2 linked regions of the Homo sapiens genome follow. The protein of the gene in region 1 purifies or fractionates together with the protein of each later gene. This does not show direct contact. Each region holds a gene or a part of one and is shown on either strand. Other genes may lie near its edges.

Region 1 (3,500 bases):
CTAACAGGAATGTCCAGTCACTAAATAATGAACTTAAATCTTCTCACTCCTAATCCTGTGCTTCTTCCAGTATGTCTTTCTGCCTTTAGCCAATTTTTTACAATCAAATTGTTAAATCATTGATTTCTACATATGGTACACCAAGTGTAGTAATATAACAGTTTGTTAAAATGTCTGAGTTAAATTCTCAGTTCATTGATAAATTTGTGGGGTTTTTTCCTTTCATTTCAATAGCTACTTGTGTTATTTGAACACTGAGCTTACCGTATGTGTGTTTGTGTGTGTGTGTTGTTTTATTTTTTGAGACGGGGTCTAGCTCTGTCACCCAGGCCTGGAGTACAGTGGAGAAACCTTGGCTCACTGCAACCTCTGCCTCCCAGGCTCAAGTGAGCCTCCTGTGACAGCCCCTGAGTAGCTGCAACCACAGGCACACACCACCACACCTGGCTAATTTTTGTATTTTTTTGTAGAGACGAGGTTTTGCCATGTTGCCCAGGCTGGTCTTGAACTGCTGAGCTCAAGTGATCCGCTCTTCTCAGCCTCCCAAAGTGCTGGGATTACAGGCACGAGCCACTGTGCCTGGCCAAGTGTGTGGTTTTTAATGGACCATCTCTGTTATTAATGTTGGGTAAAATGGGGAACCACCATTGGATATCTATAGCATGCTAAATTCTTCAGTAAGGAGGATCACAGACTCATGTTATAGTTATTATCATCCCACTTTAAAGTTGAAGAAATTGAGGCTTAAAGTAGATAATGAATTGTTATTAAGTGTTACTCGATGTCGTGTTGCTAGTTAATGAAAGTCAGAGTCAGGTTTTGAACGAGATCTATCTTACTTCAAATCCTATTATTTTCCTGCTGCCACAGAATGGCATCAGGAAACAAGGACCATAGGGCCAGACAGTGCTGGGTTCCATCTTGACTCTGCTACTTCCTAACGTCGTAGACTCAGGAAAGTTATTTAACCTCCGAGCTTTAGTTTGTTCCTTGGAATATCAGGGCTGGTATAATATATTTACAGCATCTTGTACAGTATCTGGCACAGAATAGGTACTCATTAAATGATAGCTGCTATTATTCATTCATTCATTAAACAAAATATTTATTGAAGGCCTATTATGTGTCAAGCAGTGTACTAGGTACTATAGAAACAGGTGTTGTGGGAGGACAGACAACAAGTAAGCAAAAAAAAAAAAAAAAAATCAGGCCAGGCATGGTGGCTCACACGTGTAATCCCAGCACTTTGGGAGGCTGAGGCAGATGCATCACCTGAGGTCAGGAGTTTGAGACCAGCCTGGCCAACATAGTGAAACCCTGTCTCTACTAAAAACACACAAAAAAATTAGCTGGGCGTGGTGGCATGCGCCTGTAATCCCAGCTACTAGAAAGGCTGAGGCAAGAAAATTGCTTGAACCTAGGAGACAGAGGTTGCAGTGAGCCAAGATCACACCACTGCACTCCAGCCTGGGCGACAGAGCAAGACTCTGTCTCAAAAGAAAAAAAAAAAAAAAGACCGGGCATGGTGGCTCACGCCTGTTATCTCAGCACTTTGGGAGGCCGAGGCGGGCGGATCACCTGAGGTCAGGAGTTCGAGACCAGCCTGACCAACATGGAGAAACCCCGTCTCTACTAAAAATACAAAAAAATTAGCCAGACCTAGTGGCGCATGCCTGTAATCCTAGCTACTTGGGAGGCTGAGGCAGGAGAATTGCTTGAACCCAGGAGGTGGAGGTTATGATGAGCCGAGATTGCACATTGCACACCAGCCTGGGCAACAAGAGCGAAACTCCATCTCAAAAAAAAAAAAAAAAAAATCAAATAGTGTGATAAATTCCTTGATGAAAATAAAAATAGGATCATGTGATAGAATAACTGGAGGTTATTTTAGATCGGTGATGGGGAAAGCCTCTTTCTGACACTTAAGCTGAAATCTGAAAGACAATAAGGAGCCAGCCATGCCTAGAACAGAGAAGAGCATTCCAGGCAGAGGAACAGCTAGTACAAAACCCAAGGTGGGCTAACCCAAAGAATCACAAGAAAAGGAAACTCCAGACTGATATCCCTGAATATAGATGCACAAGTCCTCCACAGAGTTAGCAAACTGAATCCAGCAACATATAAAAAAGGATTATACATGATGACTAAGTGGGATTGTTTTTTGGGTTTTGTTTTTTGTTTTTTGTTTTTTTTTTTTGAGATGGTGTCTCGCCCTGTCGCCTAGGCTGGAGCGCAACTGTGCAGTTTCAGCTCACTGCAACCTCCGCCTTCTGGGCTCTAGCAATTCTACCTCAGCCTCCTGAGTAGCTGGGATTACAGGCATGCAGCACCATGCTCAGCTCATTTTTTTGTATTTTTAGTAGAGATGGGGTTTCACCATGTTGGCCAGGCTGATCTCAAACTCCTGAACTTGAGTGATCCGCCCACCTCAGCCTCCCAACATGCTGGCATTACAGGTGTGAGCCATCACACCCTGCCCCAAGTGGGATTTATCCCAGGAATGCAAGGTTGGTTCAACATATGAAAATCAGTCAATGTAACATATCATATTAGTAGAATAAAGGACAAAAGCTACATCACTGTCTCAATAGATGCAGAAAAAGCATTTGACAAAATCCAACACATGTAAAAAAACCTCAATAAACTAGAAATAGAAGAGCATTTCCTCAACTTGATAAAGGACATCTATGAAGACCCTGTAACTAACATCATACTTAATGAAAGAAGCCAAGTGCAGTGGTGGACACTTGTAGTCCCAGGTATTTTGGAGGCTGAGCGGGAGGATTGCTTGAGGCCAGGAGTTCGAGACCAGCCTGGACAATATAGCCAGACTTTGTCTCTTAAAAAAAAAAGAAGAAGAAAGAAAGAAAATAAAAGAAAGACAAAGCCTTTCCCTTAAGATCACAAAGAAGATAAAGATGTCTGCGCTCTCAAAGTTAAATGTCTTCTATTCAACTTTGTTCTGTTGGGGCAGTTAGACAAGAAAAAAGAAACAAAAGGCAACCAAACAAAAGTTTGGAAAGGAAGAAGTAAAGCTGTCTCTATTTGTGGATGATATGATCTAGCATATAGAAAATCATGAAGAAGTTCCAAAAAAAACTATTAGAGCTAATAAACAGTAAAGAAGACCCAAGTAAATGGAAAGACCCCAGTATTCATTGATTGGATAAACTTAGTATTGTTAAGATGTCTCTACTCCCCAAGTTGATGTACAGATTCAACACAATTCCTAAAAAAAAAATCCCAATTGGCTTCTTTGTACAAATTGACAAGCTGCTCCTAAAATGTATACAGAATTGCAAGGGGCCCAGAATAGCCAAAACTAACAAAATTGGAGGACTCATAGTTTTCAGTTTCAAAACTTGCTGTAAAACTACAGTAACCAAGATAGTGTGGTACTGGCTATAGCTCATTAGAATCGAATTAAGGGTCTAGAAATAAGCCAGGCATGATGGCTTATGCCTGTAGTCCCAGCACTTTGGGAGGCTGAGGCAGGTGGA
Region 2 (3,729 bases), on another chromosome or scaffold:
AGTTTGTATCAGGAGAAAGGAGGCCACTGTTCCTTCTTGTTACCTTGTTCTCAGAGATTAAAGGCACAGTCTGTGTGCAGCCTGGCCAGGGAGGCAGGCAAGATCACAGCTACAGTCCGATGCAATGGATGCCATGATGTGGGAAGCATAAAGGGCTGATTGGAGCACAAGCAGTGTTCCCCAACCAGCCAGACTGGAGGGGAGGTGGGTGGGCAGCTGGTAAGGCCTCCTGGGGGATGTGACAACTCAAGCTCTGAAGGAAGCAAAGGAGCCACCTAAATGCAGGAGAGGGAAGGTTCCAGGCAGAGAGAATAGCATCTGCAAAGACACTGAGGATGGAGAGAGAATGAGTGAATTTGGGGTTCTCCTGCAATATGTCTGGGGCAGGGAATCCATAGGAAGAGCTGGTGCTGGATGAGACAAAAGAGGAAGCCAGAGCCAGATCACGGAGGACCTGGGGCACATCCATTGAAGTTGAAAAGCTTCTCCTGGGTGGTTGCATCCCTAAATAGTGATAGTGGGGAGTGCTCTTTGCAGCCTCACTTGGCCTCACTTCCTTCCCAGCCAATTATTCCCATGATGTCATCTTCCCAAAGTGGTTAATTCTGGGGCACAGGCACACAAGTGGCACTTTCCATAGTCTCCCTTTTCATCCCAGGGTTTCACTGGCTCCGACTGGCTGGCCTGCTGCTGCTGCTGCCTGGGAAGGTGTGCTGGTGTATTAACTGTTCTCCTTTCTTCTCGGTCCCACAGGGTATTCCTGGCACTGTGTGACAACCCAAAGGACCGAGGCACCATTGTGGCTCAAGGTGGTGGCAAGGTAACTGGGCAGGTGCCTTCCTAGAAGGTGCCTTTGTGCATGCTCTTTGCCTAGCGCAAGAATTATGTACCCTCTGCCCCAACTCGACCTCCTGGAATACGGCCACCAGTTATCTGCGCTGTCTGTGCTCATAGCCCCAAGCCAATTTCTGCTTGACTTTATGCTATGATGGTATGTACTTTGGAATCCCATCTATCCTCCTTGCTGTTGGAAGGAAGCACCGTGCAAAGACAGACCCTGGACTTTGATGTAGAAGACTTGTAGTTGAGTTCTTGCTCTTCCCATTTCTGACTGCATAACCTCAGGCAAAATACTTAATCTCCCAGCCACAGCTTCTTCATCTGTAAAATAGGGGGAAAATCACACTTTCAATTTGCAGACTGTCACAAGAATTAGAGAAAATATAGAAAGTATTGATTCATGGTAGGTGCTCAATAGATGTCTGATGTTAAGATTGGGTTTGGCTGCAACTCCGTCTCTATTAAAAATACAAAAATTAGCTGGGCCTGGTGGCGTGCACCTGTAATCTCAGCTACTCAGGAACCTGAGGCAGGAGACTTGCTTGAACCCAGGAGGAGGAGGTTGCAATGAGCCGAGATCATGCCATTGCAGTCCAGCCTGGGCAGCAAGAGCGAAACTCTGTCTCAAAAAAACAAAACAAAACAAACAAACAAAAGGATTGAGTTTGGCTTGGGCAGAAAGTAAAAAATTTGTTGATTGAATTATTTATTTTTCCAAAAGCTGAAGGAATATTTAGGTGGGTGGGAGGAAGTGGGGTAAAGACCTGAATGTGCACTGGGAATCAAGAGGAGTGAATATGTGATTAAGGATTTAATTGTTTTCCATGATGTGCAAGGGCTGATTATACGGCAGAATTTTCCTGGACCTCCCATGGGACAGACAGACAGCACCTGGAGCAGGAGGATAGGCGAGAAGCCTCTGGATGTCTGTGACTAAGTAGTGACCTTGCCCTTTCTTGCAGGCCCTGATTCCCCTGGCTTTGGAGGGCACAGATGTGGGCAAGGTGAAGGCAGCCCACGCTCTAGCAAAGATCGCTGCTGTCTCCAATCCGGACATTGCTTTTCCTGGGGAGCGGGTAGGTGCTTGGGTAGATGGGATAGGGCAATGGGAGGGGTCTCCTTTGCTCCTAGAGGCCTTTCCCCTTGTCATTCTACCTCGAGCCTGGGACAGGGGCATGGTGCTGTCACACGGAGGGTGATGCATGGAGGCACCTGGATTCCAGGCCTGGTTCTGCCTCTGACAAACCGGATTGCCCTCTCCAAAATTCAGTTATCCTATCTATAAAGAAAATAATCCTGCCTGTCAGGATCATTGTGAGGATGAAATCAGACAATGTATGAGAAAGTGCTTTGGAAACTTTACAGCTGGTCACCTATAAATGTGAGGCACTCAGGGAACAAAGTCCTCACCTGACCAAACCCTTGACCCCTCCCCAACAGGTGTATGAGGTGGTGCGGCCCCTTGTAAGACTCTTGGACACACAGAGGGATGGGCTTCAGAACTATGAGGCTCTCCTAGGCCTCACCAACCTGTCTGGGCGGAGTGACAAACTCCGGTGAGTGTGGTGAGTGTGGCAGGGGTGGAGAGAGGTGGCTCAAAAAGTGTTTGTTTGAAATTTCACATAATGTGCTGAGAATGCTCTTCTCTGAAGACAACACAAAGGCAAGGGGTGGGATTTGAGTTAGCACAAATCCACAAACCACACAGTGACTATACCAAAGCCAAAAAATGCTACAAGGCCCTTCTTTTTCTTTTCTTTTTTTTCTTTCCTTTTCTTTTCTTTTGTCTTTTCTTTTCTCTTCTCTTCTCTTTTCTTTCTTTTCTTTTCTTTTTTTCTTTCTTTTCTCTTTTCTTTTCTTATCAAGACCGAGTCTTGCTCTGTCGCCCAGGCTGGAGTACAGTGGCACTATCTCAGCTCACTGCACCCTCTGCCTCCAGGGCTGAAGCTATTTTCCAGCCTCAGCCTCTCGAGTAGCTGGGACTACAGGAGTACGCCACCATACCCAGCTAATTTTTGTATTTTTAGTAGAGACAGGGTTTCCCCATGTTGGCCAAGCTGGTCTCAAACTCGTGACCTCAGGTGATCTGCCCGCCTTGGTCTCCCAAAGTGCTTGGATTACAGGTGTGAGCCACCGCACCCAGCCAGCACTTCTTTCTACAGTAGTAATGATCACCATTCTAACTGGCGTGAGATGGTGTCTCATTGTGGTTTTGATTTGCATTTCTCTGATAACCAGTGATGATGAGCATTTTTTCATGTGTCTGTTGGCTGCATAAATGTCTTCTTTTGAGAAGTGTCTGTTCATATCCTTTGCCCACTTTTTGATGCGGTTGTTTTTTTCTTGTAAATTTGTTTAAGTTCTTTGTAGATTCTGGATATTAGCCCTTTTTCAGATGGGTAGATTGCAAAAATTTTCTCCCATTCTGTAGGTTGCCTGTTCATTCTGATGATAGTTTCTTTTGCTGTGCAGAAGCTCTTTAGTTTAATTAGATCCCATTTGTCAATTTTGGCTTTTGTTGCCATTGCTTTTGGTGTTTTAGTCATGAAGTCTTTGCCCATGCCTATGTCCTGAATGGTATTGCCTAGGTTTTCTTCTAGGGTTTTTATGGTTTTAGATCTTACATTTAAGTCTTTAATCCATCTTGAGTTAATTTTTGTATAAGGTGTAAGGAAGGGATCCAGTTTCAGCTTTCTACATATGGCTAGCTAGTTTTCCCAGCACTATTTATTAAATAGGGAATCCTTTCATCATTTCTTGTTTTTGTCAGGTTTGTCAAAGATCAGATGGTTGTAGATGTGTGGTGTTATTTCTGAGGCCTCTGTTCTGTTCCATTGGTCTATATATCTGTTTTGGTACCAGTACCATGCTGTTTTGGTTACTGTAGCC

Evidence for each region. Proteins that work in one complex are often made in the same cells at the same time.
Region 2: the proteins of MTFMT (region 1) and UNC45B purify together in Homo sapiens (affinity purification with mass spectrometry; one large-scale study listed by BioGRID and IntAct). This does not show direct contact.

Annotation. Positions count from the first base shown.
Region 1 is NC_000015.10:65,012,640-65,016,139, reverse strand, and holds part of MTFMT (methionyl-tRNA formyltransferase, mitochondrial), read left to right. Parts: intron 1-3,500. UniProt on the Homo sapiens protein: Methionyl-tRNA formyltransferase that formylates methionyl-tRNA in mitochondria and is crucial for translation initiation.
Region 2 is NC_000017.11:35,175,215-35,178,943, forward strand, and holds part of UNC45B (protein unc-45 homolog B), read left to right. Parts: intron 1-753; coding exon 754-820; intron 821-1,802; coding exon 1,803-1,916; intron 1,917-2,280; coding exon 2,281-2,396; intron 2,397-3,729. UniProt on the Homo sapiens protein: Acts as a co-chaperone for HSP90 and is required for proper folding of the myosin motor domain. Plays a role in sarcomere formation during muscle cell development. Is necessary for normal early lens development.